Linked DNA regions of Homo sapiens. The protein of the gene in region 1 interacts with the protein of each later gene in a biochemical or structural test. Each region holds a gene or a part of one and is shown in the gene's direction. Other genes may lie near its edges.

Region 1 (7,024 bases):
GTGATCCGCCCGCCTGGGCTTCCCAAAGTGCTGGAATTACAGGTGTGAGCCACCACACCTGGCCAGATTTACTTGTTATTTGAGAAACAGTAGGAATTGTGCCCAGGAGGAAAGAGATAGTCTTAGTGAAGGTGGGCAAAGACAGGATGATCTTTTAGATCAATAATGTGTGTAAGCTCAAAGGCTTGCAAAACTATTGTAAATGAAAACAACCCCTCACATATGGGTCGTCAGTCAGTTCCCACGGGAAATTCAGTGTTATGTTGAGTGGTCCTGAGATTTCCAGGTAACCTCACTGCACTCTTTAACTACAGTATAGGTGAAATATCAGTAGTACCAAGGTAAATTCTAAGACCAGGCAGTGCAGGGAAGGATGTAAAAGAATGATTCCTTTTTCTGGGTTCAGAGTCTGTTGGAGGCAATGTCAGGAAAAGGCACTCTTCTACTGTTTTGGTACTGTTTTCCCCTGGCTACTCACAATGGCAGTCTGGCTGTCTCCCCTCAAGTATTAGCATGTAATATGAGATGCTTCCTCTCTTAGAGATAAAGCTACCTAAATAGAAATTTTACTGAATATGGACGACAGATAAATCCCTAGCCATTCCATTTTTAACAGATATGTGTATTCAGAGGAACTTCTATAATTAATATAATTCTGGCAGAGTGTGAAAGAACTGAAAAACTTTGTGCTCAGTGTTGGTGGAGTGATCACCACAACATTTTAAAGAGAAACAAGTGAGACTGTATGAGTTCCAACTGCTGCTCCATATTTTCCAATGGTAATACAGTCTCTAACTTCTGACCTAAAAACACCCACCCTAAAATCTTGAGGACTCATATGCAAGACCTCTTTATTCTTTCATTCATTCTCAAATACTTAACTGAACACTATGCCAGGTATAGAAACACAGTGGTAAACAAGACAGATAAAGTCCCTGCTTATCTAATTTATATTCTATTACGGGGACAGAGGGGAAAAGTAAAATAAACAAGATAATTTTGGTCTGTGATAAGTACTTCCTAATAACTGAAGAAATATGATGGGAAGCAGACAACCAACTTTAGACAGAGGTAATCAGAGTAGGCTTATGAGTAGCTGGAACATGAAAGATAAGGAGCCTGTGCAAGATCTGAGAGAAGAGTGTTCTTAGCAGAGGGGCTAAGTGAAAAGACCCTCAGGTAGGCTGGCACTTCGGGGAGATGGGCTTAAGGAACAACAACAACAAAAAAGTTTGAGGGGCTGGAGCAGCTAGTGTTGGCACTATGGTATGAGTTAAGACTAAAGAGTAGAAGGGCTCAGGACATTCAGGGTCTTATAGGCCATGGAAGGAAGTTTGAATGATTGGACAGTTTTAAGGAAAGAAGGAAAATGACCTGATTTAAAATTTTTACATTTCTATTCCAGTTACTATTATAAAGCTTATGGGGGCTAGAGTGAGAACAGAAACAGTAGGAGGCCAGGTGGTTTGGACTAAGGCTGTGGCTGCAGAGATAGGAATGAACAGACTTAGGACATATTTGAATTATAGCCCATATAATTTACCAGTGATTTCAATGTGGGGATGAGGGACAGAGATGAATCAAAGATGGCTTCTGGGTTATGGGTTGAGTAGTTGGTTGGATAGTATTGTGAATACTGAGATAAGAGTTTGTGGGGAGGAATAGATTAGGTCAGTGAGTCGTGGTGGTCTTTGAGGGACTGAGGAGGACAGGCATTCTGAAAGATTTTAAAGAGAAGAGAAGAGGGCAGTTTTAGCTAACTTTGGTTTAAAGTTCCCAGTTAAGGTTGTGATATGGGACATTAAAGAGGTCGTTTGTGCACTAAGAAGAATATGCAGGGAGCCGGGCGCGGTGGCTCACACCTGTAATCCCAGCACTGTGGGAGGCTGAGGCAGGCAGATCACTTGAGATCAGGAGTTCGAGACCAGCCTGACCAACATGGTGAAACCCCGTCTCTACTAAAAATACAAAAATTAGTTGGGTGTGGTGGTGCGTGCCTGTAATCCCAGCTACGTGGAAGCTGAGGCAGGAGAATTGCTTGAACCCGGGAGGCAGAGGTTGCAGTGAGCTAAGATCGTGCCACTGCACTCCAGCCTGGGTGATAAAGCAAGACTCTCTCAAAAAAACAAAAAAAAATTAACAAACAAAAAAGAATAAGGGAATTCTGTGATCTGGAACTCAGAAGAATTTCATTTCCTTCCTTCACAGGGTTGTTATGAACTAGACTGGTCCAACAGGAAAGTATGATAGATGTGAACTGGGGCTTCTTTTCAACCTTTTCCGGAAGCTCTCAAGCTGTTCTTGTGGATAAGACAGAGAATATGTACTCCAATGCAAAGACTTTTGGTTGAATTATAACTGGCTGAAGGTATATCCAGATGGTGTGGGTTAATGTTTACTAGGTTTTCCTGAAAACTTTGCCTTTGGCTGCATCCCATTCTGTGTCTTGAACGAAGGTATAGAAGGCATCATCTCATAAATTTGGTGGAAGAGATATTAAGTATGTCTGATCTGATGGCAGATTAAAAATTCAGAAAGGTCTTGACAAATTGGTTTGATAGGCTGAACTAGCAAGATGAAATTTAATAGGAATCAATCTAAGGTCCTGCGCTTGAATCCAAGGTTTTCCATCCAGTCAAGTATAGAGCAGAAGAGACAGGACTTAGGATAGCATTTCTTGGAGGAGGGGGAGACCAAGAAATTTAATCATTCCTAAGTTCGAGGATACACTGGCAGTGTACTAGATCTGCTATGAAAGCTAATGCAATTTATATGCTCCAGTGATAATATCTAGAACTGGGAAAGTAACACTTGCGTTTGACTGTGTAATAGAAATTAAGTTTATTTTTCTTAATATGCCATCCAGGAATAAAGATAAACCAGCAGTCCCTTCACAGACTCATTAGAATGGCAAAGGCTCAAGCCCATCCCCTGGGAGTTAAGTTGAAGTAACTGGGAATACAGAACCAGGAAAAGAGAAAACTCAGTGTTCACTTTATATCTGTGCCATTGAAAGGGGATTGGAGATTTCCCGATGGTGCCCAGGGCAAAGCCAGGGCCAATGGATGGAATTTACAAGGAGAAAAATGCCAAGTCAGAGACATTTTAAAAATTGGAGGGCCTGCCTTATGTAAAGTTACTGACAGTATTTATGCGTTGATGGGATGTGTAGAAAGAATTCCTCTATCTCATAGTCATTGAACCAGATGACCTTTCAAGATCTTGGCAACCCTGAGATACATGGATAACTCTTTTTCAGCTTTCTCTTGTTGTCACAACCGTTTGCCTTTTTCTACTTGGTGGTTCTCAAGACAGCTGAAGAGGAGATAGCTGATGCACTGTTTTGGTTCCACAGGTGTCTGGTTTCTTAAGTCAGGACCTGCATATGCTGCTGGTTGATGAGATTTGTAAAGGACCTCCCTTTTCAGCACAATGACTGATGGTATTTCTTGCATTGTTGTTGTCTCCCAGGTGACTGTAGGACGAGGATTTGGTGTCACATACCAACTGGTATCAAAAATCTGCCCCCTGATGATTTCTCGAAACCACTGTGTTTTGAAGCAGAATCCTGAGGGCCAATGGACAATTATGGACAACAAGGTACAGGAATTCACAGAAGCCTAATGACTTTTATTTGTTTTTAAATTACTTTTTTTTTTTTTTGCATAGGTAATTCATGGTATAAAATTCAAAAGTATAACTTCTTCTTTCCTAGCCATCCAGTTCCCTTTTCCAGAGGCAGCCACTTCCATATGCTGCCAGAGATTCGATTATGCTAAAATAATTTCTCTTGATTTGGGTTAAAGTTTGTTAACTTGAAGAGAATACCTGAATTGGGGTAGTAGGTCCTATTCCAGAAACTAGACTAAGTTACTGGGCAAATAAGCCTGTTTGAGGTGAAGCTCCCAGAGACCCTGGGAATCTGCAGAATCTGCTGACGCTTCTGGAGTACACTTATGGCTCAGTGGACAAGGGGAGGAGGGAGAAACTGATCTGATTGCGCTTAGCTCCTTTCCTTCCTCACTCCTTTCAATCTGAGCAACCTCCCCTGGCCTTTAAAACATGTTTTAAATATTGGTGTTCCGAAGATTTCCTTTGAATAATGGGTTTTTCTCCTTTAAACAAATTTGAAAACCACTAGTTTAGTGGTAAATATATTGAGGGAGGTGCAATAGTATATGAAGCCCAGCAATTAGAAAGTACCTAATGTGCTGGGTGTGGTGGCACATGCCTGTAGTCCCAACTACTGGAGAAGCTGAGGCCAGAGGATTGTTTGAGCCCATGAATTCTGGGTTATAGTGTGCTATGCCATTCTGGTGTCTGCCTTAAGTTCGGCATCAATATGGTGTCCTCCTGGGAGCAGGGGACCACCAGTTTGTCTAAGGAGAGGTGAACTGACCCAGGTTGGAAGGAGGGCAGGTCAAAACTGCTGTGCTCATCAACAAAGGGATTGCACCTGTGAATAGCCACTGCACTCCAGTGTGGCTGACATAGTGAAGCCCTGTCGCTATCAAAAAGAAAAGAAGATACCTAAAGTGCAGATATACAAGCACCGAGGAATGTGATGAAAATACAGACTATGAGGTGAGAGAAATTCTAACATAAACAGTTAATGTTTAGGAAGTATAACATGTCTTTAAGTGCCATTTCATATTGCTTCACTGCCCCAGTTAGGATTTTAAAGGTACCATTAGAAGGGAGGGTATCCCACAGGTCTGCCTGCCATCCTCATATTGCGTGCATAAAACTGCTAGATTTAAGCTGTTGGAAAGTATCTTCCTGCTCTAGAATTAAGTTGAGTTGGCACTGTATTGAAGGAGACAGTACATAAATGCTAAGTAAATCAGTTCAGCACTTTTAGCAAGGCACCATGAGCAGGATAAAAATTGGCACTGAGATTATCTACTTTAACCCCTTATGTAGACAGATGAATCTGAGGCCCAGAGAGATAAACTGTCTTGCCCAAAGCCTTCTCTATAATGAGCCAGGACTTAAGTTTCTCTGCTATGCCCTGTGTCAAGTATCAGTAAAGTATGTAAGCAATTTGCTATACTGGCTTTATGACGTCAAACAATTAATTATGCATATTTAAAATATAGCTGCAAGGTTTTAAAGCCTCTGTAATAGCGTATATCAAAACAGCTTAGGAAAAGATGTTTTCCTCATCAGAGTAGGCTGTATGAGAGTTAGGATTACAATATTATAGAGGTGAGTTCTCTGCTGCTGCTTTTCTTAATTATGTGCAGTGTAGATGTGATCCACTTATGGGATTAGCAGATTTTCATAGGTTGGGAAGCCAACAGCTGATCAACTTCAGTGTTATTTGAATTTCAACCACAGGGATACAGAGGCAGCCTGTGCAAGATCAGATCATGACTGTGCTCCGGGCTCACTCTCCAGTGTTTGCTTTGTACCCTTCCTTCTAGGGTTGCTGTTATCATATGATTCTTCTCAGGTCTCAGTCAGGCAATAGAGAGGAAAGATAGGTTTCTTAACAACCTGTTTAAACTTTTTAGCTGTGATTGTTTGTGAGATAACTGATTTAATTTTAAGAGAAGCTAGGACTGGGGTGTTTTGATGGAACAATTCTTACAAGTAAATCCCCCCTGCCCCCTGCACTTTTCTTTTGACTACAGATGCCCCCTTTCTGGCTTCCTCCTGGCATGATGCCATGGCAGCCCTCTTCTGCTGATAAGAGACCTGAATTTCAGCTGTAGGGTATTATTGCTGTGGTTGTGTTTGAAGTCATTTGCCAAATCTTTTTCAAGAGATAGGTGTTTCTAACAAGTTAAAAACTCAGAGCTGCATTCTCTTATCTGCTGGAATGGCCAGAAAGTGAGAGCTTAAGTATAGATACAAAAATTGCAAGAAATGTTATTTTGGTTTAAAATTGGCTTAAAATATAGAAAAAAACCTTGGAGGACAGCTAAGTCTGCACACAGTATGAGGATGGTTCTAGTTGTGTAGGTTTTGGTCAATTCATAAGCTTTTCAGATGGCCCGTCCTTTGTATTGGTATCCAGCTCTTTCAGAAAATTGGTTGTTTTAAAGTCACAGTATGAAATGCCTTAGAGGTTCAGTCACGTCTTACTTGAGCCTTTCCCATTCTTACCCTCCTCTCCTGTTGCTTTTCACCTGCTGCCTGGTGATTCCTACCTTTGTTCTTCTGCAGACTCTGGCATTTGAAGTCCCTGTTGAGTGTACTCTTACGTGAACAAAGTTTGCTGTTTGGGACAGTTCAGCTTCTGGTCCTCCAGCAACTAGAGCAGTGGTTATCAACCCTGTTTCCAGTTTTTACTCTCACCTGGGGCACTTTTTAAAAATACTGATGGTAGTACAATAAAAGCGTTCATTCGTCAAAAAACACCATTAAGAGAGTAAAAGGCAAACTCAGAGGAAGATGTTTGCTACACATTATAGTCAATGAAGGGTTTATACTGAGGTATCTGCAGAACTCCAATAAGAAAAAGACAGATATGCCCTATTTAAAAATGAGCAAGAGACAAGCACTTCACAAAAGGTTCTATCCAATGAAAAGTTGTTCAACCTCATTAATAATCTGGGGAATTTAAATTAAAACCATAATGGAATACCTCTACACATTCACCAGAGTGGCTAAAATTGAAGACTAGTGATGCCAGGTATTGGTAAGGATATGGAGTGATAGAATGTTCTTACCCTTCTGTTGGGAGTGTAAATTGGTACAATTTGGGAAATTATTTGGCATTATTCATTAAAGTTGAACATACATATAGCTCTTGACACAGTATTTTCACTCCCCGGGAAACAGCCCAAATGTCCATCAACAGTAGAATGGATAAATTGTGGAATAATCTTATATTGAAACACTATACTATAGTGAATATGAATGAACTACTATATCTAATAACATGGATAAACCTCACATAATATTGAGTGAAAGAAGGCTGGGCGCTGTGGCTCACGCCTGTAATCCCAGCACTTTGGGAGGCCGAGGCGGGCGGATCACGAGGTCAGGAGATCGAGACCATCCTGGCTAACATGGT
Region 2 (7,024 bases), on another chromosome or scaffold:
ACCTCAGGTAATCCATCTGCTCCGGCCTCCCAAAGTTCTGGGATTACAGGCATAAACCACTGAGCTTGGTCTAATACACGTGTTTTTTATTTAAGCCAAAGTATCTCGATAACAGTTGTTTAAGAGGCCAAAAAGAAAAACCCTGACAAATATGTTTTGATCTTTAGTTCAGTGTGCATCATATACCTTAGCCCCTTTAACCCTTCCTTCTACTGGAAGAGAATTTTGGAAGGAAAAAACTTTTAATTAGACTGAGACTTTTTGAGACGGAGTCTTGCTGTGTTGCCCAGGTTGGAATGCAGTGGCATGCGATCATGGCTCACTGCAGCCTCGACCTGCTGGGGTCAGGTGATCCTCCTACCTCAGCCTCCCGAGTAGCTGCGAACACAGGCACGCATTGCCACACCTGGCTAATTTTTAAATTATTTGTAGAGACAGGGTCTCCGTATGTTATCCAGTGTAGTCTGAACTCCTGGACTCAAGTGACCCTCCTGCCCTGGCCTGAGGTTAGGATTACAGGTTTGAGCCACTGTGCCTGGCCAGACGGAGACTTCTAAGCAGAAACATTTTTGGCCATCCCATCTGGTCTTCTTATTTTGCAGATGAGAAAACTGAGGCTCAAACAAGTAAAAGGCTATACATAGGTGGTTACTAGTACAGGCAAGACTAGAATCCAGGTCTTTTACCCTTAGTCTGATGCGCTCTCCATTATGAAGAACTCTGAATTTGGAATATTTCTCAGAACATGAATCTTAATTACTCCCTTTCACACTTCCCTTCTTAGCACAATCCTTGTTTCAGACTCTTAGATCCTTCTTATGGATGAAAGGGGAACGTAGCCCTCACCAGCTAGGTTCTCCTTTTCCAAGAGACAGAGTTACCCATGCAATTCAAGAGTATTTCACAGGACAGAGGTTAAGAAGCTACTCTCGGGAATAGAAATTTGATACTGTTTAGTACTCATGATTCAAAATTTTATTAGATTCCAGCATTAATAATAACAATTAGTTTAGATAGAAAAGTATGTGCAGGCCGGGTGGGGTGGCTCACACCTGTAATCCCAGCACTTTGGGAGGCCGAGGTGGGCGGATTACCTGAGGTCGGGAGGTTGAGACCAGCTGGACCAACATGGAGAAACCATGTCTCTACTAAAAATACAAAATTATCCGGGCGTGGTGGCACATGCCTGTAATTCCAGCTACTCGGAAGGCTGAGGCAGGAGAATCTCTTGAACCCGGGAGGCAGAGGTTGTGGTGAGCCGAGAGCACGCCATTGCATTCCAGCCTGGGTAAGAAGAGTGAGACTCCATCTCAGAAAAAAAAAGAAAAAAAGCGTGTGCAATAGTTTTAAAAAAATACAATAGTTTTAGTTTTACAGAAAAGTTGTGAAGATAGTACAGAAAGTTTCCATGCACCTCACATTCAGTTTTCCCTGTCAATTTCCTTTTTTTTTCTTTCGGGATGGAGTCTTGCTCTGTCGCCCAGGCTAGAGAGCAGTGGCGTGATCTGGGCTCACTGCAACCTCTGCCTCCTGGGTTCAAGTGATTCTCCTGCCTCAGCCTCCCGAGTAGCTGGGATTACAGGTGTGTGCTGTCACACCCGGATAATTTTTTGTATTTTTAGTAGAGACAGGGTTTCACCATGTTGGCCAGGCTGGTTTCAAACTCCTGGCCTCATGATCCGCCCGCCTTGGCCTCCCAAAGTGCTGGGATCACTGGTGTGAGCCACTGCATCTGGCTTCGCTGTTAATTTCTTATATTGGTATGGTACACTTGTCACAATTAAGGAACCAATATTGACACATTTATTATTAACTAAAGTTCAGATTTCCTTAGTTTTTCTTTAATGTACTTTTGCTGTCCTAGGACTTCATCCAGGATACCACATTACATTGTAACGTGAAACTTTTTTTTTTTTTTTGAGATGAAGTCTCGCTCTGTGGCCCAGGCTGGAGTGCAGTGGCGTGATCTTGGCTCACTGCAAGCACTGCCTCCTGGGTTCATGCCATTCTGTGGCCTCAGCCTCCGAAGTAGCTGGGACTATAGGCGCCTGCCACCATGCCCGGTTAATTTTTTTTGTATTTTTAGTAGAAGTGGGGTTTCACCGTGTTAGCCGGGATGGTCTCGATCTCCTGACCTCGTGATCCATCCGCCTCGGCCTCCCAAAGTGCTGGGATTACAGGCGTGAGCCACCGCGCCCGGCCCACATGAAACGTTTTACATTTATCACTTAGGTAATATTAATGGTACAGTGAAGCTCTAGTCTCTGACTGTAGATGCCTGGAAAATGTCTTTGAGTTATGAGAAACTCAGAAAAAATTGATGAAAGAATATGTTTTCTGCTATGTAGGCAGAAAACAAAACCAAAATATAACCTACTAATTGCCTTCTTCAGAAGTGGGTAGCATTGTATATACTGGAAGAACTAGTTTAGCAGTGTTCTGAGTTCCCTGCTGCCCCTGACAGACTACTGTGCCACCATGGGCATGTCAGTTAATCACTAAACATTGCTTTTCCCATCCCATCTGTGAAAAGATTGGACAACATCATCTTGTTTTCCTCTTTAGATGAAGATACTTGGATATGGACAGAACTCGGGTGTGGTGATAGAAGAGAATTACATAGTTTAAATCATAACCTAGAACTTGGGAACTAAACGATAGAAGAGCTGAACTATGGTAGTCTAGTGTATTTCCCTCTTGAGGCTTCCATAACTGGCCTGGTTGATTTTTCTAGGTCATTTGGGAGCCTGAATTCTCTTGATAAACATGCTTTTGATAATATGGTACAACCTCACTGTACAGGCAGTCCTTTGAACGGCAGTTGGCAGAGGTAAAAATGGCCATGCAAAAAACTACCCAAAGCAGTCTTAATAATTGGGAAAATTATGGTTATTCTGAGACCTTCAAAAATGTCAACACATTAAGAACTCTCCCTGTTTAGAAATATGCAGGAAAGGGCCGGGCATGGTGGCTCACGCCTGTAATCCCAGCACTTTGGGAGGCTGAGGGGGGCGGATCACGAGGTCAGGAGATGGGAGACCATCCTGGCTAACACAGTGAAACCCTATCTCTACTAAAAATACAAAAAATTAGCCGAGTGTGGTGATGGGCGCCTGTAGTCCCAGCTACTCGGGAGGCTGAGGCAGGAGAATGGTGTGAACCTGGGAGTCGAAGCTTGCAGTGAGCTGAGATTGCTCCACTGCACTCCAGTCTGGGCAACAGAGAGAGACTCTGCCTCAAAAAAAAAAAAAAAAAAAATGTGCAGGAAAATGAAACCAGTAAAATTAATATTTAGTATGTCATAATTTAAAGTATCAGATATTAAGAATTAAAATGTTTTATTTCATTAAAAAAAGCTTGTTGGCTGGGCGTGGTGGCTCACGCCCGTAATCCTAGCACTTTGGGAGGCCGAGGTGGGTGGTTCACGAAGTCAAGAGATCAAGACCATCCTGGCTAACATGGTGAAACCCCGTCTCTACCAAAAATACAAAAAACTAGCCGGGCGTGGTGACAGGCACCTGTAGTCCTGGCTACTGGGGAGACTGAAGCAGTAGAATGGCATGAACCCGGGAGGCGGAGCTTGCAGTGAGCTGAGATTGTGCCACTGCACTCCAGCCCGAGTGACAGAGCGAGACTCCATCTCCAAAAAAAAAAAAAAAAAAAAATAAGGCTTGTCAAGAGTAGCTTGAGGCTGGGTGCAGTGGCTTCCACCTGTAGTCCCAGCACTTTGGGAGGTCGAGGTGGGTGGATTACTAGAGCCTAGGAGTTCAAGACCAGCCTGGGCAATACAAGAAAATCCCATCTCTACAAAAAATGCAAAAATTAGCTGGGTGTGGTGATGTGCACCTGCAGTCCCAGCTACTTGGGAGGCTGAGGTAGAGTATGGGTTGAGCCTGGGAGGTTGAGGCTGCAGTGAGCTGTGATCGTGTCACTGCACTCCTGCCTGGGCGACAGAGCAAGACACTGTGTCAAAAAAAAAATTAATTTGAACAATGCTTGCTAATGTTTTGAAGTACATTATCTGTACATTGTGGAATGGTTAAATCTAGCTAATTACCAAATACATTATCTCACATAGTTATCATTTTTGTGGTGAGAATACTTAATAGCTACTGAGTATTTTTCAAGAATACAGTATGTTGTTAACTAATCACCATGCTATACAGTAGTGCTCTTAAACTTGTTCCTCCTGACTGTAATTACGTATCCTTTGTCTAACATCTTCCCAATCCCCACCCCCGTAACCCCAACCATCCTAACCTCTGGTAACCACCATCTCCTGTCTACTTCTGTGAGATCAATTTTGACTCCATATATGAGTGAGATAATATGTATTTGTCTTTCTGTGCCTGTGTTATTTCAGTTAACATAATGTTCTCCAGGTTCATCCATGTTGTTGGAAATGAGAGAATTTCCTTCTTTTTTATGATTGGAACAGTGTCCCACTGTATACGTATACCACATGTTCTTTATCCATTTGTCTGTGTGGTTTTTTTTTTTTTTTTTTTTGAGACGGAGTCTCACTCTGTCACCCAGGCTGGAGTGCAGTGGCGCGTTCTCAGCTCACTGCAACCTCCACCTCCTGGGTTCAAGCAATTCTCCTGCCTCAGGCTCCCTAGTAGCTGGGATTACTGGCACCCGCCGCCAAGCCCGGCTAATTTTTGTATTTTAGTAGAGATGGGGTTTCACCATATTGGCCAGGTTGGTCTCAAACTCCTGACCTCAAGCAATCCATCTGCCTCGGCCTCCCAAAGTATGGGGATTACAGGCGTGAGCCACCGCGCTCAGCCTATCCATTTGTTGGTTGATGGATACTTAGGTTGATTCTATATCTTGCATATTTTGAGTAGTGCTGCAATAAAATGGGAGTGCAGGCCTCTCTTTGACATACTGATTTTATTTTCTTTGGCTATATATGCAGTAGCAGGATTACTGGATCATACGGTAGCTCTGTTTTTAGGTTTTTGAGGAACTCCATACTCTTCTTTCTCCATATGGTTGTACTAATTCACATTCCCACCAACAGCATGCTTAGATTATCCTTTATCACCACATACTCACCAACACTTGTTATCTGTCATCTTTTTTTTTTTGAGACGGAGTTTGGCTCTTGTTGCCCAGGCTGGAGTGCAATGGCATGATCTCGGCTCATTGCAACCTCCACCTCCTGGGTTCAAGCAATTCTCCTGCCTCAGCCTCCCGAGTAGCTGGGATTACAGCCACGCACCACCATGCCTGGCTAATTTTGTATTTTTATTAGAGACGGGGTTTCTCCATGTTGGTGAGGCTGCTCTCGAACTCCCAACCTCAGGTGATCTTCCCACCTTGGCCTCCCAAGGTACTGGGATTACAGGCGTGAGCCGCCGTGCCCAGCCTTTTTTTTTTTTTTTTTTTAATTGAGACAGAGTCTCGCTCTGTCGCCTAGGCTGGAGTGCAGTGGCGAGATGTCAGTTGACTGCAACCTCCACCTCCAGGTTCAAGCGATTCTCCTGTCTTAGCCTCCCGAGTAGCTGGGATTACAGGCACCCGCCACCATGCCTGGCTAATTTTCATATTGTTAGTAGAGACATGATTTCACCATGTTGGCCAGGCTAGGCTGGTCTCAAACGCCCGACCTCAGGTGATCCACCTGCCTTGGCCTCCCAAAGTGCTGGGATTACAGGCGTGAGCCACTGCGCTTGGCCTCATCTTTCATCCTTTTGATTATAGCCATTTTAATGGGAGTGAGGTGATACCTCATGTGGGTTTTTTTTTGCATTTCTTTGATGATTAGTGATGTTGAGAATTTTTTTCATATACCTCTTGGCCATTTGTATGTCTTTTGAGAAATGTCTATTCAGATCTTTTACCCATTTTTACATGAGGTTATTTTCTTGGTATTGAATGGAGTTCCTTATATATTTTGGTTATTAACCCCTTATCAGATATATAGTTTACGAGTATAGTGAACCATTCTGTATGTTCTCTCTCTCTTTTTTTTTTTTTTGGTGGAGTTTCGCTCTTGTTGCCCAGGCTGGAGTGCAATGGCACGATCTCAGCTCACTGCAAGCTCTGCCTCCTGGGTTCAAGGGATTCTCCTGCTTCAGCCTCCTAAGTAGCTGGGATTACAGGCATGTGCCACCATGCACTGCTAATTTTGTATTTTTAGTAGAGACGGGATTTCTCCATGTTGGTCAGGCTGGTAATAAACTCCCGACCTCAGGTGGTCTGCCTGCCTCAGCCTCCCAAAGTGCTAGGATTACAGGCGAGAGCCACCGCGCCTGCCAGTTCTCTCTTTATTGTTTCCTTTGCAGTGCAGGAGATTTTTAGTTTTATGTGATCCAAATTGTCTGTTTTTGCTTTTGTTGAGTGTGCTTTTGAGGTCATATCCTCCAAAAATCATTGCCCAGACCAATGCCATTGACTTTTCTTCCTGTTTTCTAGTAGTTTCATAGATTGCCTTTTTTTTTTTTTTTTTCCTGAGACAGTCTCAACCTGTCACCCAGGCTGGAGTGCAGTGGCATAGTCACGGCTCGCTGCAGCCTCAACTTCCCAGGCTCTCACCTCAGCCTCCCGAGTAGCTGGGACTACAGGTGCACGCCACCATACCTGGCTAATGTTTTGTATTTTTAGTAGAGATGGGGTTTCGCCATGTTGGCCAGGCTGGTCTCGAACTCCTGACCTCAGGTGATCCACACGCCTCGGCCTCCCAAAGTGCTGGGATTACAGGTGTGAGCCACCATGCCCAGCTGCACAATGCCCAATTTTGCCACTTCTGTTCAACATAATACTGGAAGTCCTAGAAAGAGCAATAAGACAAGAGAAAGAAATACAAGGCATCTTAATTGGAAAAGAAGTTAAACTGTTCCTGTTTGCAGAAGACATATGATGTCAGTGTTTATTGTTATAAAAACTTCTGTCTTAAAACTGCTTTTGCTGTATTCCATAGGCTTTGTATGCTGTGTGTTTCAGTTTTCATTTTTTTCAATAAACTTCCTAATTTGTTTTTTAATATCTTCATTGACCTATTGGTTGTTCAAGAGCA
Region 3 (7,024 bases), 6.7 Mb from region 1:
TTAATCTATTCCTTTCTCATTATTCAGTTTTCTTCCATTTTTGTCACGCCTTGATTGGCTTCTATTCCTTTATCCTCGGCACCCGTTGTTTTCCATATCTGTTTCCTAAGTTGTATCTCCTACCTGACTCAAAAGAAAGACCCTTCGTGTTTCTTCTTTCTTTGCCCCAGCCATCCTTTTCCTTACCATCATCCACGTGTGGAGAACACTATAGTAGCATTATGGAGACAGGTCTGTGGGAAAAAGGTAGCTTCCCAGGTAGATCCCAGTCTAATGGAGGAGAGATCATAGACAGAAAGGAAAATCCAGTGAGCATATTTTTTGTTTTTGTTCTTTTTTGAGACAGAGTCTGTCTCTGTCACCCAGGCTGGAGTGTGCAGTGGCGTGATCTCAGCTTACTGTAACCTCCGTCTCTTGGGTTCAAACAATTTTCCTGCCGCAGCCTCCCAAGTAGCTGGGACTACAGGCGCATGTCACCCGGCTAATTTTTGTGTATTTTTTTGTTTTTTTTGAGACAGTCTCACTCTGTCACCCAGGCTGGAGTGCAGTGGCGCGATCTTGGCTCACTGCAACCTCTGCCTCCCGGGTTCAAGCGACTCTCCTCCCTCAGCCTCCCAGGTAGCTGGGACTACTAGGCGCCTGCCAACACACCTAGCTAATTTTTTTTTTTTTTTTTTTTTTTTTTAGACAGAGTCTTGCTCTGTCCCCCAGGCTGGAGTGCAGTGGCACCATCTCGGCTCACTGCAAGCTCCGCCTCCCGAGTTCACGCCATTCTCCTGCCTCAGCCTTCCAAGTAGCTGGGACTACAGGCGCCCGCCACCACGCCCGGCTAATTTTTTGTATTTTTTAGTAGAGACGGGGTTTCACCGTGTTAGCCAGGATGGTCTCGGTTTCCTGACCTTGTGATCCACCCGCCTCGGCCTCCCAAAGTGCTGGGATTACAGGCATCAGCCACCATGCCTGGCCTTTTTTTTTGTATTTTTAGTAGAGACGGGGTTTCACTATGTTGGCCAGGCTGGTCTTGAACTCCTGACCTCGTGATCCGCCCGCCTCGGCCTCCCAAAGTGCTGGGATTATAGCCGTGAGCCACCACGCCCGGTGGAAATCTGGTAAGCCTATCTAACCATAAACAAGTATCAAGAACAGTATCCAAGTTCTATCTCTTTTCTCCACCTCCTCCCCCTCACTTGCTTCTGTTTCTCCCTAGGGCGATCAGGAATCTCCAGATGCTTGTCTGCCTCCTACAGTACCTGAAGCCCCAGCCCCACCCCAAAAGCCCCTTAACTCTCAGAGCCAGAAACATCTTGCACCTCCGCCCCTTCTTTCTCCCCTTTTACCTTCTATCAAGCCAACCGTTCGTAAGACCAGGCAAGATGGGAGTCAGGAAGCTCCAGAGGCTCCCTTGTCCTCAGAGCTGGAGCCTTTCCACCCAAAGCCTAAAATTAGAACTCGGAAGTCCTCCAGAATGACACCCTTTCCAGCTACCTCTGCTGCCCCTGAGCCCCACCCTTCCACCTCCACAGCCCAGCCAGTCACTCCCAAGCCCACATCTCAGGCCACTAGGAGCAGGACAAATAGGTCCTCTGTCAAGACCCCTGAACCAGTTGTCCCCACAGCCCCTGAGCTCCAGCCTTCCACCTCCACAGACCAGCCTGTCACCTCTGAGCCCACATCTCAGGTTACTAGGGGAAGAAAAAGTAGATCCTCTGTCAAGACCCCTGAAACAGTTGTGCCCACAGCCCTTGAGCTCCAGCCTTCCACCTCCACCGACCGACCTGTCACCTCTGAACCCACCTCTCAGGCTACTAGGGGAAGAAAAAATAGATCCTCTGTCAAGACCCCTGAACCAGTTGTCCCCACAGCCCCTGAGCTCCAGCCTTCCACCTCCACAGACCAGCCTGTCACTTCTGAGCCCACATATCAGGCTACTAGGGGAAGAAAAAATAGATCCTCTGTCAAGACCCCTGAACCAGTTGTGCCCACAGCCCCTGAGCTCCGGCCTTCCACCTCCACAGACCGACCTGTCACCCCCAAGCCCACATCTCGGACCACTAGGAGCAGGACAAATATGTCCTCTGTCAAGACCCCTGAAACAGTTGTCCCCACAGCCCCTGAGCTCCAGATTTCCACCTCCACAGACCAACCTGTCACCCCTAAGCCCACATCTCGGACCACTAGGAGCAGGACAAATATGTCCTCTGTGAAGAACCCTGAATCAACTGTCCCTATAGCCCCTGAGCTCCCACCTTCCACCTCCACAGAGCAGCCTGTCACCCCTGAGCCCACATCTCGGGCTACTAGGGGAAGAAAAAATAGATCCTCTGGCAAGACCCCTGAAACACTTGTCCCCACAGCCCCTAAGCTCGAGCCTTCCACTTCCACAGACCAACCTGTCACTCCTGAGCCCACATCTCAGGCCACCAGGGGCAGGACAAATAGGTCCTCTGTGAAGACCCCTGAAACAGTTGTCCCCACAGCCCCTGAGCTCCAGCCTTCCACCTCCACAGACCAGCCTGTTACCCCTGAGCCTACGTCTCAGGCTACTAGGGGAAGAACAGATAGATCCTCTGTCAAGACTCCTGAAACAGTTGTCCCCACAGCCCCTGAGCTACAGGCTTCCGCCTCCACAGACCAGCCTGTCACCTCTGAGCCCACATCTCGGACCACTAGGGGAAGAAAAAATCGGTCCTCTGTCAAGACCCCTGAAACAGTTGTGCCCGCAGCCCCTGAGCTCCAGCCTTCCACCTCCACAGACCAACCTGTCACCCCTGAGCCCACATCTCGGGCCACTAGGGGCAGGACAAATAGGTCCTCTGTCAAGACCCCTGAATCAATTGTCCCTATAGCCCCTGAGCTTCAGCCTTCCACCTCCAGAAACCAGCTTGTCACCCCTGAGCCCACATCTCGGGCCACTAGGTGCAGGACAAATAGGTCCTCTGTCAAGACCCCTGAGCCAGTTGTCCCCACAGCCCCTGAGCCCCATCCTACCACCTCCACAGACCAGCCTGTCACCCCCAAGCTCACATCTAGGGCCACTAGGAGAAAGACAAATAGGTCCTCTGTCAAGACTCCCAAACCAGTTGAACCAGCAGCCTCTGATCTTGAGCCTTTTACCCCCACAGACCAGTCCGTCACCCCTGAGGCCATAGCTCAGGGTGGTCAGAGCAAAACACTGAGGTCTTCCACAGTAAGAGCTATGCCGGTTCCTACCACCCCTGAATTCCAATCTCCTGTCACCACAGACCAGCCTATTTCCCCTGAGCCTATTACTCAACCCAGTTGCATCAAGAGGCAGAGAGCCGCTGGGAACCCTGGCTCCCTCGCAGCTCCCATTGACCATAAGCCTTGCTCTGCACCCTTGGAACCTAAATCCCAGGCCTCAAGGAACCAAAGATGGGGAGCAGTGAGAGCAGCTGAATCCCTTACAGCCATTCCTGAGCCTGCCTCTCCCCAGCTTCTTGAGACACCAATTCATGCCTCCCAGATCCAAAAGGTGGAACCAGCAGGTAGATCTAGGTTCACCCCGGAGCTCCAGCCTAAGGCCTCTCAAAGCCGCAAGAGGTCTTTAGCTACCATGGATTCACCACCACATCAAAAACAGCCCCAAAGAGGGGAAGTCTCCCAGAAGACAGTGATTATCAAGGAAGAGGAAGAAGATACTGCAGAGAAGCCAGGGAAGGAAGAGGTGAGGAGAGGGTTGGGACCACAAAGCTGGGAAAAATGACTTCAGGGCTCTGAAACTCCCACCAAGATTTTTCTCAATCTCAGGATGTCGTGACTCCAAAACCAGGCAAGAGAAAGAGAGACCAGGCAGAGGAGGAGCCCAACAGAATACCAAGCCGCAGCCTCCGACGGACCAAACTTAACCAAGAATCAACAGCCCCCAAAGTAAGAGACAAAGGCATGGGACTTTGTGGGAGACAGAGATGAGGGGAGGATGCAAGGAGACCTAGAGGATTGTAGAGATGGGTGCTGATGGCATGGGTTGCCGTAACCACCTCAGGTCAACCCTTCCACAGGTGCTCTTCACAGGAGTGGTGGATGCTCGGGGAGAGCGGGCTGTGCTGGCACTGGGGGGAAGTCTGGCTGGTTCAGCGGCAGAGGCTTCCCACCTGGTCACTGATCGCATCCGCCGGACAGTCAAGTTCCTGTGTGCCCTGGGGCGGGGAATCCCCATTCTGTCCCTGGACTGGCTGCATCAGGTGAGAGGCCAAGGGATGATGACAGACCGATATAGTGGCAAGACTGCTCATATAGTGCCCTAGAAAGTGGTGGAAGGGAAGAGGCGTTACAGGAAGACAGGGGCATTGGTGAGCCAGAAGCCTGCATTGATTTAAAAGACATTTTGTGAGCTCTCTCTAAATGCTAGGCAGCAGAGCTGATTGAGGGGCTGGGCTGAGCTTTGATGCTGACTGCTGCCGTCCTTAGTCCCGCAAGGCTGGTTTCTTCTTACCCCCGGATGAATATGTGGTGACCGACCCTGAGCAAGAGAAGAACTTTGGCTTTAGCCTTCAAGACGCACTGAGCAGGGCTCGGGAGCGAAGGCTGCTAGAGGTGAGAGGCTATCTTTTAACCTGTGCTTCAGCCCTCCCTCCAGTGCTTCCCAATCTACAATACCATCTCCATCATTTCTTTCTCTTAGGGCTATGAGATCTATGTGACCCCTGGAGTCCAGCCACCACCACCTCAGATGGGAGAGATTATTAGCTGCTGTGGAGGCACATACCTACCCAGCATGCCTCGGTCCTATAAGGTATGCTTAGGATGTTCTGGGTCTGGGTGAGGTGGCAGTGGCAGTTAAAGAGGTGGCTGGAATGGCAAAGATTGGAGGGAAAAAAATGGAGGTTCAGAAAGGAATATAAAGTAGTGAGAGGGTGGGGGAAAAGACCTATGGTATAGAAAGGGATAGGAATGAGGGGACAGATCTGCTGATACCCCCATATAACAATCACCGAGATTCAGCAGCAGCTTAATTTAGATTATGCTACATTTGCTCCATCTATCCCTTTTTTCCTTTGATTTTCTTTTTTTTTTTTTTTTTTTTTTTTTGAGATGGAGTCTCACTCTCAGGCTGGAGTGCAGTGGCACAATCTCGGCTCACTACAATCTCCGCCTCCTGGGTTCACACCATTCTCCTGCCTCAGCCTCCCGAGTAGCTGGGACTACAGGTGCCCGCCACCACGCCCGGCTAATTCTTTTGTATTTTTAGTAGAGATGGGGTTTCACTGTGTTAGCCAGGATGGTCTTGATCTCCTGAGGTCATGATCTGCCCGCCTCGGCCTCTCAAAGTGCTGGGATTACAGGCGTGAGCCACCGCGCCCGGCTTTTTCCTTTGATTTTCTTTGCTGAAGTATTTCATTTCTTTTTATTTTTCTTTATTCTTTCTTTTTTTCCTTTCTCTTTCTTTGCTGAAATATTTTAAAGCAAACTGCCAATATTATATTATTTCTTCCTACATACTTAAATATATATCTCTAAGAAATACGTACATTTTATTTCATAATCACAATGCCATTATTGATCCTAAGCAAAATTAACAGTAGTTTATTGGTCATTTGCTCACACTCCATTAATAAAATTTCTCCCATTGTCTGAAAAATGTCTCTATACAGTTGTTCAAATCAGGATTCAAATAAGGTCCACATACTGCCACACCTATTATCTTCTTAATTATCTTTACTCTAGAGCATCCCTTAACCCACCCAGCTTTTTTTATGCCATCTATTTCCTGCAGAAGCTGGGTCACTTGTCCTTTAGAATGTTCCTCAGTCTGGAATTTTGGGTTTGCCTCCTTGTCATATAATTTATCTTGTTCCTCTGTACTCCATATTTCCTGGAAATTGCAGATAATTGTAAAAGCTTGAATAAATTCAGGTTCATCTTTCTAGCAAAAGTATTTTTTTTTTTTGAGAGAGTCTCACTCTGTCGCCAGGCTGGAGTACAGTGGAGCAGTCTTGGCTCACTGCAACCTCCATCTCCCGGGTTCAAGCTGTTCTCCTGCCTCAACCTCCCGAGTAGCTGGGACTACAGGCGCACACCACCACGCCCAGCTAATTTTTTTATTTTTACTAAAGACGGGGTTTCACCATGTTGGCCAGGATGGTCTCGATCTCTTGACCTCGTGATCCACCCACCTCGGCCTCCCAAAGTGCTGGGATTATAGGCGTGAGCCACTGTGCCTGGCCTCTAGCAAGAGTATTTCTTTTTTTTTTTTCTTTTTTTTTTTCTTTTGAGATGGAGTCTTGCTCTGTAGCCCAGGCTGGAGTGCAGTGGCGCGATCTCGGCTCACTGCAAGCTCCGCCTCCTGGGTTTTCACGCCATTCTCCTGCCCCAGCCTCCCGAGTAGCTGGGACGACAGGCACCCGTCAGCGCGCCCGGCTAATTTTTTTTTTTTTTTTTTTTTGTATTTTTAGTAGAGACAGGGTTTCACCGTGGTCTTGATCTCCTGACCTCGTGATCCACCCGCCTCAGCCTCCCAAAGTGCTGTGTAATTACAGGCATGAGCCACTGCGCCCGGCCTAGCAAGAGTATTTCATAGACAGTATGCGGTGTGCTTCACTTGGCTTCATATTAGGAGGTATTATTTTAGTGATGGTAAGACTGGTTAGTGGGTCCTGAACCCATTTCTAGGATTCTTTTTCACCTGATTTTGCCTTTGCTCTGTCTTCCCCAGCCTCAGAGAGTTGTGATCACATGCCCTCAGGACTTCCCTCATTGCTCCATTCCACTACGGGTTGGGCTGCCCCTCCTCTCGCCTGAGTTCCTGCTGACTGGAGTGCTGAAGCAGGAAGCCAAGCCAGAGGCCTTTGTCCTCTCCCCTTTGGAGATGTCATCCACCTGAGAACTCCACTACCCTTTTCCCTCCCAGACCACGAATTAGAAGATATGTGGAAGAAAGAACTCAGGGCGTTAGAAAGGATTGGGGTATATTGATACAACTTGTCCTGGAACATGGGTGGGACCAGAAATCTTTATGAATAAATGAAAAGATAAGGGATTTGGAAGCCACAGGTTGTTTTTTGTT
Region 4 (7,424 bases), on another chromosome or scaffold:
TCATAGTCACTCTAAAATCTAGGTACTGGTCAACCTTTTGTTTTCAGACATTTTTGTTTTGCTTATTGTAAAAATATGATGCATATTCATTCAACAAATATTTATAGATGATTTACTTTGTGCTCGGTACCTTGAGAGGTATTGAGGCAGGCTCTGATTTCCCAGTAACTAAAATAGACAAACTTCTACCTTAAGTGTATTTTATAATAATCTGTTTTTGTATTTTAGCTTGCTTTTCACAACTGTTATTTTAATAATGGCAAATTTAATTATGTGGGTGAATCAGTATGTGTAATCATTTGCATATTGTTGGACATTTCCAGTTTTTCAGTATCATTTTTCTCACTTTTAGAATGTTTCCTTGAAGTACATTTCTTTTGAAATGGAGAAATCTGGTCAAAGGGTATGGCCACATTTAAGGCTCCTGAAAAAAATTTCCAAATTCCTTTTCGAAACATGTACCAATTTTCATTCCTACTAGAAATGGACAAAGGGATTTTTTAAAAAACAATTTGCCAGGAATTATTATAATAACTAAAAATTGTTTTTGTTATTTTGATAGATATTTCATTTCAACTTTCCTTTCTGGATAACTAGCAAGACTACATTTTTGTTATAATGTTAAATATTTCTTTAAAAATTTTTGCCTTTTGACATACTAAGGTGCTCACGGTTTTGTTTCATGTGTACAGGCTCCTTACCATGACATGAGCCTTTTTTGGTATATACCTTCCCTGAGAGTTATCTCAAAAGAGAAATACAGAAAATAATCACTGAGTTATCTGACGTCAAACCAAGGCTTATGCACCTTTCCAACTCCAGGGCCCAGCCCTTGGTGTAGGACACAGCAGGTTTTCCCCTCAGGATGCAGTGGAAGTGCACCCAGATGTCAAGCGGCACATTGGATTCTGGGGGTCCAAAGACACTGGGACTAACAATGACAAACAAGGCTGTGTAAACTAAGGCTGAGCCAAGAAATACCTTCCTAGTAAACCAATCCAGTCTTTATGGGTAGAGAAAGAAAATTTCTTAGCCAGAGAACTGAGGATACAAGTAACTGGAAAGCATCAGAAACAGCCAGTAAAAATGAAGGGACTCTTAGAAAAGTTATTGACTGGAAGGAAACAAAGTACCTTAAAATCAACAAAATAAATTCATATTTATTCTACATTTTTTACATGTGAGGGATGCTGCTGGTCATGGTGGATAAGTAGAGGTCTATACCCCAGCTTACATAATCATTCAATTCAGAAACTTCTTAGGTAACTCAGTGATAGATCCTGTGAAATTCTTAGTTATACATACTCACAGTTATGTACACAGATAACACTGAGACTCATTGAAAGGCGCAGGAAAAAGCATCTCCCAAACTAGGGAGGTGCAAAGGATTCTGGGGTCTGCCTTATTTGCCCTTAGGCAGGCCTCTTTTTGTCACAACATTTGGTGGATAAGGGGATAAGAGATAATCATTGTAATACTGCAATTGGATTCGGCATCTTCCCTCTTACCACTGCCCTTCTCAGGGTTGTGAGAGGCTGGCAGGACCCCACACCAACAAGAGAAAATAAAAGAGACTGAGAGGAAACAATCTTCTTTGTGGTAGCTGGTGTCTGCTTGTGGAACTATTCTGAGGGACCTTATGGGAAAAGGGCCCTTTTTATATTTTATGAAATAATTGCATTAGGTCAAATTTGTATGCTTCCAAGAGTGCCTGTGAAACATGATCCTTAATTTCAAGGATTGACATAGCAAAAACAAGAGAGAAAAAATAATTACAAAACAGGTTGTCACACAAGGAAGAACTAAACATTAGAAACAATTTACACCTTACAAGTTACTTCTGGTGGAGGTGATGCCAAGTCACCTGGGAGAGGAGCTGTGAGCTGAAATCATTTGAGCAACCCCTTGAGTCAGCTGAATGAAGGCAGCCAGGCACCTCACATTGTAGGGGCAGGGCACTACTGCCCCTAACCTTATGGAGCCATTCATTATCTTTACGGTGACTTTAACAATAGGTATTATTTGTTGAACACCCAAATTCCAGGTATTTTGCCAAGAGCATTATCTATATTATCTACATTATCACTGGCCCTAGTGCTCTCTCCAGGACCAATCTAATGTTTCCTTCTTTGACCTTTACCTCATGCCCCACAATTCCAACCTGAATTAATAGTTCCATTATTAGTTAATTGATGATTAGTAATGCTCTTTTCTCATTCTCTTTACTTCTTTAATACAGCACTTCTCATTCTGCAGGCTACGTTTCTGGCTGCCCCACTGCACAATTGAGCTTGGTTAAGAGCATGACCCATGTTTCACTCCAGTTTCCCAAGCAGTTAGTAGATCCTAAATATTCTGTTGGGTGAATGTTAAGTTAAACTCCATGACTTCAAGTTCGCCAAAGAATCACGGAATCATGGAATTTTTGAGCAGGAGAGGACTTAGAACCTTTGATACAATCTCCTTTTACATAAAAGTAATTGAAATAACTTAACTTGCCTGAGGTCATATGAACTTCGTAGAATGAGGATTAGAATACACTTCCCTGGCTTTTCAACCCAATACTATTTCTTCTGTAGAAGATGTTACCAAACAACTAAATATCTTTCTCCCCTAAGCTCCTTACCCCACTAAATCCTATCAGCAATTGGCCTTTGGGCCTTCAGGCTATTTCTGTTCTTAAATTTCCTAAAAGAACCCATGTTTAACGTACAGCTTTCCTTTTCTGTCTCCCCATTCCAAACAAAGCAAAGCTTCAACTCCAAATTGGCTGGCTTTTGCTGTAACATCACATCGTGTAAAGCTGGGGGAAAATTCTGCTTTTATTTTCACTAACAAGCTTTTCCCACAAGCACTCTTTGACCCAGCCAAATCAAAATGCTTGTCCACACACAGACCATGATCTTTTTTGAGGCATGAGATATTCTATCTGTTCATTCTGAGTGGAATATCCTTACTACTTATGAACCTAGCGAACTTTAATGAACTGTTCCCCTTCTGGACTAGGAGCTCTTAGCACAGAGTAGAGACCTGGCTTTAGTCACACAGCAATTGAATGAGTGTATGTCCAGCACCTAGCAACATATAGCCCTCAATAAAGTTAACTGAATGACTGTGTCTTTGGAAAATTATGGAAATGTAACTTACTCTTTAGAGTTGCTATCAAGCCTTTACCAAAAGTTTTCTATTAGGAGAAATAGTAAGCAAATACGTTGGCTCACTCAGTCTTTTCTTCTTTCCCTTAACTCTATACATCTTTTGACTGCCATTCTCACTCCCTTTGTGAACTGCACATTCTCACAGCACCCCTGCCCCTGGACACTTGTGGGAGAGGAATCCACAAATTCCTTTGAGGCTCCATCACCGGAACAAGTTCTCAGTAGCTGGAGAAGGCCTGGGTGGCAAACAGGAAGTTTTTGTATTCTGGCTACTTTGTGCCGTGGGGTAAAAACCGCAGAGTCCACCTGGAGACTGCAAAAAGAATGGTAGAACAAACAAAACTGTCACTATCTCCACCTAAAGCTTTTCTGGGTGGACATTCTGACTCAACATCACTCAGAACTTTTCTTTCCAGAACTGGCTCCTCATGTGCAAGACAGAAGAGTCCCGCAGAAAAGTGTCATGTTTTAGCTCTCATCGCCACCCCCCAACCCCAAACTCTTCTCCTTCACTTTTAAGAATGTTGAGCGGGACATTTTAAACACTGTTTTGGATTTTTAAGGTTTCAAATAATCCGAAGGACACTTCCCTTTGGCAGCGACAGTTGCAAGCTATGAGCCAAAAAGAAATAGAGGTTGTTCCCCTAATCTCCAAATACATTCTACCCTCTTCAATTCCCAGGACCCCAACTTGTCCCTTCCTCCAGCTTACGCGAGGGGCAAGTGGCAGCTCTTCTCCGCCTGCGTGCCTGGCCTCGTCAACAACACCCATTAGTCTCCCGTCTCCCGGGGCGGCGGGGGACTCCCAACCACGCGCCCAGGGCCCTTGCCCAGGTACTGGGGCCCCGGGAGCCACGACGGCCCCCGCGCAGGCGGATGGGATGGAACCAGCCCTGGGGACGCGGGTAGCCCAATGGGCAGCCTCGCCCCGGAGGCGGGCCCAGGCCGGAAGCCACCCCGCGGCACAGCGGCCCCGCGATACGGTGCCCGCGCCCCCGCCTTCTCTGGCACAGGCTCCGCGGCCAAGGGCGGCAGGGGCCAGCCCGCCGGGTCCCCGCCGCGCTCTTTGTCCTGGCCGCGCGCGGGCGGACGCGTGCACCCCCAGGGTGAGGGGAGGTGTGGAGAGCGCGCACGGGAGCGCGCGGGAACAGCTCGCGCCCGCCGGGCGTCGGCGGCGCGCGCCCCTCCGCCAGGCAAGCAGCGAGCACGCGCGTCGCCGCCGCGCCCGCCCCTCCCCCCCGCGCTCGCCTCGGAACTTGCTGACTGCGCGGCCGGGAGGAGCCGAGCCGGGCGGCGGCGGCGGGAGGCTACAGCGCGCGGGGGTCTCCCGCGTCCCCTCCGCCTCGCCGGGAGCTCGCGCCCTCGCCCAGCCGAGCTCCCACCCCCGCTTTTTTCCGAAGGCGCTGGGCGGCGCCACCCTCCGGCCGGAGCCCGGCACTGCACAACCCCCTCCGACTTTCAATGTTCCACACTCCCCGGCCAGAGCCTCCTCGGCTTCTTTTTTTCCCTCCCCCCCCTTCCCCCCCCCACAGCTGCCTCCATTTCCTTAAGGAAGGGTTTTTTTCTCTCTCCCTCCCCCACACCGTAGCGGCGCGCGAGCGGGCCGGGCGGGCGGCCGAGGTAAGGCGGCGGGGCCGGGGGGCCGCGTGGGGGGCGGCCGGGGCGGCGGCGGCGGTGGGGGAGGGGGCGGGGGCGGGCAGCTTTGTTCGCGCCGGGCGCCCGCGTCGCCGGTGTCCGCGAGCCGCGGCGGGGCCGGCTGGGCTGCTCGCATCACTTGGCGCCCGGCGCGGCGAGCGCTACCCGCGGCCCCCGCGCGGCCCTCCCCACAAAGGGCCGCGGAGCTGCGTGGCCGCCGCCGCCGGCCGTGGCTCGCCTCCGCGGGCGCGGAAATTTGTTGCACTTCTTGGGGCTTTGTTTATTTGTTTGTTTTTTCTCTGGGTTTCTTATTTTTTTCGTTATTTTGGACAAAATGTCGGTCCGTGATATAAAAATTGAGCGAGGAACCTTGGTGGCATTGGGAGCTTTGCAGAAGGTGCAGTTTGAATTCTGCTTTTCCCAGGGTGGCAGCTCGGTCTTGGCCGGATGAATCTTCGCTGCTGGCCGTGGAAACAGCTAGAGCAGCTCGTTAGTTGATTTTTAAATTTCCAAGTGTTGTGTTTAAAGGCTTTACGTGCACTGAGGAGGAATCGCCACCTTAAATAAGCATATGGGCGATTAACAGGGTGTGTTTTCCTCTCGGAAAGGGAATTTGGTAGCTTTGACCAATGTCAGTGTGTAAATATTTAGACGTTATTAGTGACTTTTAAACATTTTTCAGCGAGATCTGTTATTTACAGTGTGTCATATGTTATTAATGCTTGTTGCCTAAGTTCCTTGGCAAATCTGTTTCATGCCTTCTGAGAAAGTAGACAATTGATAGATTGTCCAAGAGACGGAAAAAAATGTGAGTGGGTTTTCTAACTTGAGTTCGGCAAATCCCTTAACGCTGGCGTTGTGTGACACATCACCTCCCTTGTACGTACCCCTGTTGTACGATGAAATAAGTGTGAACACTTTTGAAGCTTTTTCATTACAAGACGATTTTAGATGACTAGAAGAAAATGCTGTTGGTTTATTTCCTAGATTTAACATTTTCTCCTCCTCCTCCCCTGTTCTCTTTAAAAGTTTTCCAAGAGATAACTTCACCAAGATGTCCAGTGATAGGCAAAGGTCCGATGATGAGAGCCCCAGCACCAGCAGTGGCAGTTCAGATGCGGACCAGCGAGACCCAGCCGCTCCAGAGCCTGAAGAACAAGAGGAAAGAAAACCTTCTGCCACCCAGCAGAAGAAAAACACCAAACTCTCTAGCAAAACCACTGCTAAGTTATCCACTAGTGCTAAAAGGTAATGTGTAAAAGAAGGATCCAGCACACTTTGTCAGGTTGTCTTCCAGGTGGTTGGACGCTTTTGTTGGTTTTACCTCAATAGCAGTAGTTCAGAAATATTTACTTCATTATCAGTTTAATTGTACTTGAATGAGTTGTCATTCTTTAGGTGGTATGTAAGCAACATTACTAGAATTATACTTTTAAGCAAACTTAATTCTGTACTTCGGTAACTTCAGTTAAGAGTGTCCTTGAGTAGAGATTAGACTAACATTCTGACAGATTGTTTAAGGAGTTGGCAAGGAAAATTTGGTGAACCCAAATTAGATGGTACTTTGGGGATGTTCCTTTTATGAGTCATAATCTTCTTTAATGAAATTGACACTTCCAGAGATTAGCAGTGCCTCTCTTCATGAAACTTAATGATCAGAAATGATCATATTTGCTAGAAAATTTGCAAATTCAGGCCTTTGCTATATTTGAAAGCAGATTTAAAATTGTGCTGCAAATCTGCTTACAGTTTTACAAAACATGACTTTCAATCGTATATCACAGGTAACTTTCCTGGTTAAATTATGATTATCCCTTCCTGTGCTTGTGAGGGCAAATCAAACTGAAAAGTAGCCCTTTACAATTTGAGGTGTCACTAGTGATAGAAAACTTGCATTGTCCTTGGGCCTCTTCACTCTGAAACTTGTGGATGTGCTTGACAAGTTAATACTCAACAGCAGGAGAAACATATTTAATTGGATGTAAGTGAAAGATCATTTGTTTCCTATTGATTGATGTTTTCTGATGGAGAAAAAAAGATTCTGTCAATGAGACTCTTATCAGTGGTAGTAGTAGTGGAATATCCACAAACTCTAGTAATTATACATAAAATGTATAATGTTTACAGCATTAACCAATTTTGACATTTTGTTAATTTTTATTGATAACTAAAGGAAAAAGAATATAAAAACTGATCAAATATTGCATTCTGTGGTGATTCATAAATACTCATATTTTTCTATGGATTTTCACCCTTATTGTCTCAGTAATGAAGTATTAATAACTTGATAATATTTTTGAATGGCAGCAGTCTTTGACATAATTTAAAATTCTCAATTTGGTATAGTGTTGATGCGGAACATATTAGACACATCTAAAGTTTTGAAATCATCTTAAATTTGAATCAAATCAGAGAACTGCTTTTCTCCCCCTTAACTCAGGCCTATGTATTTTCTCCTCTTTCTCTCAATGTTTATTAAATTTAAGTGCTGTACCTAAAATCAGGGAAAACAGAAATGGTTAAATTAGAATGTCAAGTAGTCTTTGAAAGTTTTTCACAAGTAAAGATATTTGTAAATTTTAAACTTTTTTTTTGACAGATAAAATATTGTCAGAACTGTTAATGTGCTCT

Evidence for each region.
Region 2: the proteins of RNF8 (region 1) and UBE2V2 form a complex in vitro, tested with the Homo sapiens proteins (2 studies listed by BioGRID).
Region 3: the proteins of RNF8 (region 1) and MDC1 form a complex in vitro, tested with the Homo sapiens proteins (2 studies listed by BioGRID and IntAct, with this or other methods).
Region 4: the proteins of RNF8 (region 1) and UBE2E3 form a complex in vitro, tested with the Homo sapiens proteins (one study listed by BioGRID).

Annotation. Positions count from the first base shown.
Region 1 is NC_000006.12:37,356,975-37,363,998, forward strand, and holds part of RNF8 (E3 ubiquitin-protein ligase RNF8), read left to right. Parts: intron 1-3,471; coding exon 3,472-3,600; intron 3,601-7,024. UniProt on the Homo sapiens protein: E3 ubiquitin-protein ligase that plays a key role in DNA damage signaling via 2 distinct roles: by mediating the 'Lys-63'-linked ubiquitination of histones H2A and H2AX and promoting the recruitment of DNA repair proteins at double-strand breaks (DSBs) sites, and by catalyzing 'Lys-48'-linked ubiquitination to remove target proteins from DNA damage sites.
Region 2 is NC_000008.11:48,011,407-48,018,430, forward strand, and holds part of UBE2V2 (ubiquitin-conjugating enzyme E2 variant 2), read left to right. Parts: intron 1-7,024. UniProt on the Homo sapiens protein: Has no ubiquitin ligase activity on its own. The UBE2V2/UBE2N heterodimer catalyzes the synthesis of non-canonical poly-ubiquitin chains that are linked through 'Lys-63'. This type of poly-ubiquitination does not lead to protein degradation by the proteasome.
Region 3 is NC_000006.12:30,700,282-30,707,305, reverse strand, and holds part of MDC1 (mediator of DNA damage checkpoint protein 1), read left to right. Parts: intron 1-1,207; coding exon 1,208-3,685; intron 3,686-3,768; coding exon 3,769-3,888; intron 3,889-4,019; coding exon 4,020-4,202; exon of another isoform or gene 4,203-4,239; intron 4,240-4,428; coding exon 4,429-4,554; intron 4,555-4,642; coding exon 4,643-4,753; intron 4,754-6,673; coding exon 6,674-6,841; 3' UTR 6,842-7,024. UniProt on the Homo sapiens protein: Histone reader protein required for checkpoint-mediated cell cycle arrest in response to DNA damage within both the S phase and G2/M phases of the cell cycle.
Region 4 is NC_000002.12:180,976,196-180,983,619, forward strand, and holds the start of UBE2E3 (ubiquitin-conjugating enzyme E2 E3), read left to right. Parts: upstream 1-4,409; 5' UTR 4,410-4,778; exon of another isoform or gene 4,779-4,817; intron 4,818-4,862; exon of another isoform or gene 4,863-5,282; intron 5,283-5,822; 5' UTR 5,823-5,847; coding exon 5,848-6,041; intron 6,042-7,424. UniProt on the Homo sapiens protein: Accepts ubiquitin from the E1 complex and catalyzes its covalent attachment to other proteins. In vitro catalyzes 'Lys-11'- and 'Lys-48'-, as well as 'Lys-63'-linked polyubiquitination.